Linked DNA regions of Homo sapiens: region 2 is linked to region 1. A link means that fine-mapping ties the variant in region 1 to the expression of a gene that starts in the linked region. Tissue or cell type: whole blood. Region 1 holds a variant in brackets; the other region holds the start of a gene. All regions are shown on one strand. Distances are from middle to middle.

Region 1 (2,759 bases):
AGCCTCCTAAAGTGCTGGGATTATAGGCATGAGCTGTGGCACCAGGCCCAGTTTAAGATATTACAAAATTCTAATCAAAACTACACACTTGCCCCAGCCAAACCAGTTACAGGCAGTCTGCCTGCCTTTGGAGAAGAAAGTATGATAGACTACTTACTTCTCTCCTCATCTGCTCTTCCCCTGTAGCCTACTCACCATGTTTTTAGGCACCCTCCAGGTTTTGGGGAAGGTGAAGCAACAAAAAGATGAGAAAGAGGATAACAAAGTCTATCTTAGCCTTCCATAATGCTCACTGAGCCTAACAGAAATTTGAAGCTGACTTTTCTCTCATGGGGTGATTTGGGGACTTTTTCAGAGATTTATCATCCCTGAGGAGCTCTCACCTATGGTTTCATTGACTCTGACAGATGCATTTCTCTTCCAAGTGCTCACTTGCGAATCCTTTCTAGAAAGGAGTTCTTGATGCTTTGGTTTCTTCATCATGCAGTCTTATGGTCCGCAGGAAACCTCCACAAATCTTTTGCCCTAACAACCTCTAGGACTACAGGCTTATCCAAAAGCATCAATGCTCTTGCTCTGCCACCAACAGTTAGTTGGTCATTTCTCATCATCTAGATTTCCCAGATGGAATCAAACCCTGCCCTCTATGTATCTTTTACCCTTCTCCCTTGTAGGTAGCAGGAGGATGAGCCTCACAACTTCTTTCAAAAATTGTTTCTCACAAAATCTTTCCCATTCTCCATTCTCTGACCACTTTTTATAGTCTTGACATAACTGAGAGGATCAAGGTAGTGGAACTGGTTCTAACACATTTCCTTTGTAAATGCTGCAGTTGATCTGATACATGACTTTGGTATACAGAATCTGTTTTATCTAGGTGTCTCAATTGAAACTGCAATTTTCATATCTCATTGCCTATGTATGTAATACTTCTATAAATCTGTAATCTTTAGCTACCGCACAAAAGGCAACATGGCCCAGTCTTTCCCTCTCAATATTACCTCCTGTCACTCCTGCCAAAAGTCTTCTTTATAGTATTATACTTGTCATACTGTTTCATATTTCTCTGCTTTTGATCTTACTGTCTCCTCTAACCCAAATGCCATTTCCTTTTCCTATACCCTGTCTTTTGTCAAGCTCACTTCTAGTTCATCCTCATGCAACAGTACCCAAGTCAGGAGTTACATGCTCCCTCCCTTCTTTTTGGTATTCTTCCCACATATCATCCTAGACTAAGTGCCTACCCCACCCCCCAACTACCTGAGTCCAACTCTGCATACTTTATTCTAGGACTAACTTTTTTATTGAATTTATCTTTTCATATGTCTGCTTACTGCAGCAGATTGAAAGCTCCTCCAGGATACAATCTTTGTATCTTCATTCCCTAGCACAATGACTGTCCT[A/G]TTGAGGAACTCAATACACATTTGTTGGCCTGAAACAGAAGAGGAGAGTCAAAACTGACTTCCAGATAATAAAGAATTACAATCTTTTAAAATATGGTCTATGTGGATATGACAACTTCTCAGAAATTACTGGACTCCAAGCCATTAATTAATCAATACAGTCTAGCTATCGATTAGAGTTTCCTATTCCAGATTTACAGCCATGGGCCAATTAAGGATCCCTTAGTTTTATGAACTAAAACCCAATTGAAGTATCTAATTGCATCATGATAACATTTTAAATTCATTAAAATGCTTTATCTTAATAGAAAAAATATTTCTACACATTTACTCCATCTTTGTATTCTTCCAGTGAAGAGTGTATTCAAGAATAGCTTTCCTGATCTCAACCAGATGAATAATTTACATAAAATGAACTAATGCATGTCATATCACTGCAAAAAAAGCTGTGTGTCTACAATCTTACTCCTTCACATTTGTATTGTACTGCAGTTTATGAAATAGATGTGAAATTATAGATTACTGCATTTGATTCTCACAACTGTGTGAGATGTAGGAAGAGAAATCATTATCCACATTATCTACACATATCTTAAATGAGATAACTGAGGTTCAGAAAGAATAAATTATTTACTGCATGTCACATGGCTAATAAGTGGTTCTAGCTGATGTGAATATGTAGGGCTTTTGGCTTCAGTTTGAGTGTTTTTTTCCATTATACTCTTTGTTGTGTGTGTTGATACGAATCCTAACTTGCTGACAAAATAAGAAAGAAGGGAAAAACAAAGGCAAAAAAGTACACACACACACACACACACACACACACACACACACACCCCTCTTATACCAGCAGAATACTATACGGTAATAATTGAGTCAATTTATGATCATAATATTTCTGCAATTTGGAAAAATACAAAGCTGACTCCGTACTGTACTCTTTTCATCTCTCCTCCTCTGCCAAAAAATCCAAATGGATTGAATGAAAACTTAAAAGCACTAAAAGAAAATGTAGCTTATTTCTTATGATCTTGGAATTTAAAAACCCTTTGTAAACATAAACTGGGGGGAAATAATTATAAATATGACAGAAAAAGAACTAATTTACTTAATATACAAAGAGTGTTTACATATCAGTTAATTTTAACAATTAGGAAAATGGTTTAAGAACATGGAATAGCAGTTTATAATTCACAGAAAAGGGAACTGAGATTGCCAATAAACATGTACAAATGTCCTCAATCTCATAATTAAAGAAATGCACACTAAAGCCATAATGAAATACCATTTTTTACCAATTAAACAGGCAAAAGATTTTGAAGTTCAGCCACATCTCATGTTGAAGATAGCAGGTAG
Region 2 (2,759 bases), 67 kb after region 1:
GGGACTAGCATCAGGATTTTTTAAAAGCTTTTAGGGAAGAGACCTTTTTGCTTGTCTGTCTGTATCACCTGGTATAGGCAACTTAGGAGCAAAGAACGAGCCTCATTCATTATATTCCCAGGGCCCAGCATGATGCCAGCCACATCACAAGGGCTCAATGTATTGAAAAGGAAGGAAGAGAAGGGAAGGAAAGAAGGAAGGAAGGAAGGGAGGGAGGGAGGAAGGAAAGAGAGGGAGGAACTAATGAGCAAATCAAACGTCTCCCAGGAAGCCAACCCAAGCCCCAAGATCTGTGTTCCTTCCTTCCTTGACTCCACCCTCTTGGTCCCAGTAAATGTGGTTGGTCCAGGGCTGCTCTGTCTGCCCAGGCCCTGCCTATGGAGGGAGGCAGAGAAGAATGAAGGGCTTGGTGCTGGGACCTTGGGGGTCTGGGCCACAAGGAACCCTTCAAGCTAAATGCCCCAGGAGAGGAGAATGAGACTGGAGAGCTGGGCACAGGCCGTGGCATGGAAGCCAGGGGCCAGGGCTGAGGAGGCACTTGCCAAGGAGAACAAGCTCCTCACACCCACCGTAGGGGAGGATGCTTCCTGTCACTGAGAAAAGCATTCTGCTTATTTTTTTAATGACTGGCTGTGGCCCGCATAATTGATTTTAGGACGGTGTCCACCCCTGGCACCCCAGCCCCATGCAGGGCGCCCCTCCCGCCGGCCTCTCCAGCCCTACCCGGGAGCCTCTAGTCAGTTCCATGGCCTTGAACTTAGCCCTTCTCTGCCTGCCTGCCGACACCTGGGCCCAAGACCCCTCTACCCTCGGCAGTCCCCACACGCCCCGACTCTGCAGCCAGAGGGCCTAAAACCTGACCACCCACCGCCATGTGGGTCGCAGCCATGGGGCCCTGCGCCCTCCCCTCCCACCTGCATCAGCAGCCGCCACCCTCCAAGCCAGGGCTTTTCCTGGCTTTCTTGGTGGCTCCTTCTCCCCCTCAGGCTCACCCACGGCTCCCTTTCTCCGAGAACCCTTGCCGCCCCCTGGTCCACAGACCCCCACAACGCCCGTCCCTGTCCACACCCCGGTGATGTCCTTCCCTGCATTGCACATGCTTCTGAAGTGACCTGCGCGGCCGTCTCTTTGAGGAATGTCTTAGCCCCGCTAGAAAGAAAGCTGCTGGAGCCGCACTGTTTCTGACTGCTGCCTTCTGGACGCTGGCTGAGTACTGTCTGGTTAGGGGCGATGAGGGCGAAGCTCCCTTCCCAACCCTGTTCTGAGGGTTGAAAAGCATTCATTTCTTTCCACCTTGCCTCCCTCCAACCTGGAAATCTGGGAACTTCAGGGGTGCGCCCCCTTCCCTCAGCCTCTAGCCCGGGGGAGCATGGAGCCAGGCACCCTCCTCCAGGTTGGGGGGCCTCACCTGCTGCGCAGAAGGAGAGCAGCAGCGCCCGGGGCAGCATGGCTGGGCACTGGCTGGGCGATGGCTGGGTGCTGGCTGGGCACGGGACAAGACCCCGGAGCTGGCGGGGACTGTAGAAGAGGCTGCGTCTGACCTTCTGGCCTTTCATTCCTTGCTGTTTCCTCTCTTCCTCTTTGCCACCCAAACTGCTGGATTTTACTAAACAAATACTTACCCAGTGTCTGTCGCTGCCAGCAGGGTGTGAGGTGCTGGAGATGCGGCCTGGAGGATGCGGAAGAGATCCCTGTGTGGGGGTTCAGAAAACAGTGTCCCAAAATGAAGGCCCCAGAAGCACAAGTTTTTCTCTTACCTTCTCCTGCCTTCCTGTCTCTCAGCCCCACTCTCCCCAAGGCCAGCCGTAGGAACTAGAACCCCTTTTCGCCAAAGCCAGCCATAAAACCTAAAAATATTACTCTAACTTGCCCTTGCCTGGCTGTGTAGAAACTGGCTGTAAAGAAATGATCTGAAGGGATCATCGTTTGACTGTAGGTCATGAGAATCCCCCATTCCAGAGAGGGCCCTGCTCCACGCCCAGAAGGAAGGACTTCATGCTCAGAGGGGCCAAGAAGAATCCAGACCCACAGGCCTGGCTGGGTTTCCCCACTCAGTCTATTCACATTAGATCAGACCCTTCTGTCCAATCATATTTCTACACAGCTGCCCACACTTTGTTGAACCTAAGCATAAAAACGAACAATGTCTCCCTCTATCATTGGGTCTTCATTCTGAAGGCTCCCGGGGACACATACACATGTTAAATAAATGTGTATGCCTTTCCTCCAATTAATCTGCCTTTTGCAAGTTGATTTTTCAGAGCATCTTCAGAGGTCCTCCTGCAACTTAGGAGGAAGGCAACATGGATCTGGTAATTAATAAGCAGATCGGGGAGGGAAGGAACCCATCCTTGGGGCTGGCTGCTGGGGGAGAAAGAGAGTAGGGTAGCAGAGGGCAGGGTGAGGCTAGACCCCTTGGGTCCTCAGGGTCAGAGGAGCAAGGGGCAGAAAGGAAGGATGGGGAAGAAGCGGGTGAGGAGGGAGAAGGAGCTGGAAATTGTGGACCAGGCAGGCTTTGCTAGACTCACCCCCTACCCCTCCTCACAGCAACCACATGACGTGAGGGAGAGGGCTGTCATTTTCACTGGCTCACAGGGGAGAAACTGTGGCTCAGAGAAGTGAAACAGCATGCTCAGGACTACACCGCAGGCAGAGGTGAGACAGTATTCAAGCTTAGGTTGAATACTAAAAGCTTTTCAGTGAATACACTGAAAAGCATGAGGTTGGGAGGTGATGGCCCCGACAAGTTCTGCTTCCGC

Evidence for each region. PIP is the estimated chance that this variant, and not a neighbour inherited with it, causes the effect.
Region 2: CLEC20A starts here. The variant in region 1 is the best candidate, but not a certain one, in a credible set for the expression of CLEC20A in whole blood (TOPMed, PIP 0.53).

Annotation. Positions count from the first base shown.
Region 1 is chr1:178,428,707-178,431,465 of GRCh38, forward strand. The region is part of intron 5 of RASAL2 (RAS protein activator like 2); the gene reads left to right. Among named protein-coding and RNA genes, the nearest start is that of CLEC20A, 67 kb to the right of the region's middle. The variant A/G (reference allele first, on the strand shown) is at 1,404.
Region 2 is chr1:178,495,492-178,498,250 of GRCh38, forward strand. It overlaps CLEC20A (C-type lectin domain containing 20A), which reads right to left and starts at 1,473. Exons shown (of 8, transcript NM_001395331.1): 1 at 1,409-1,473. The coding sequence starts at 1,448.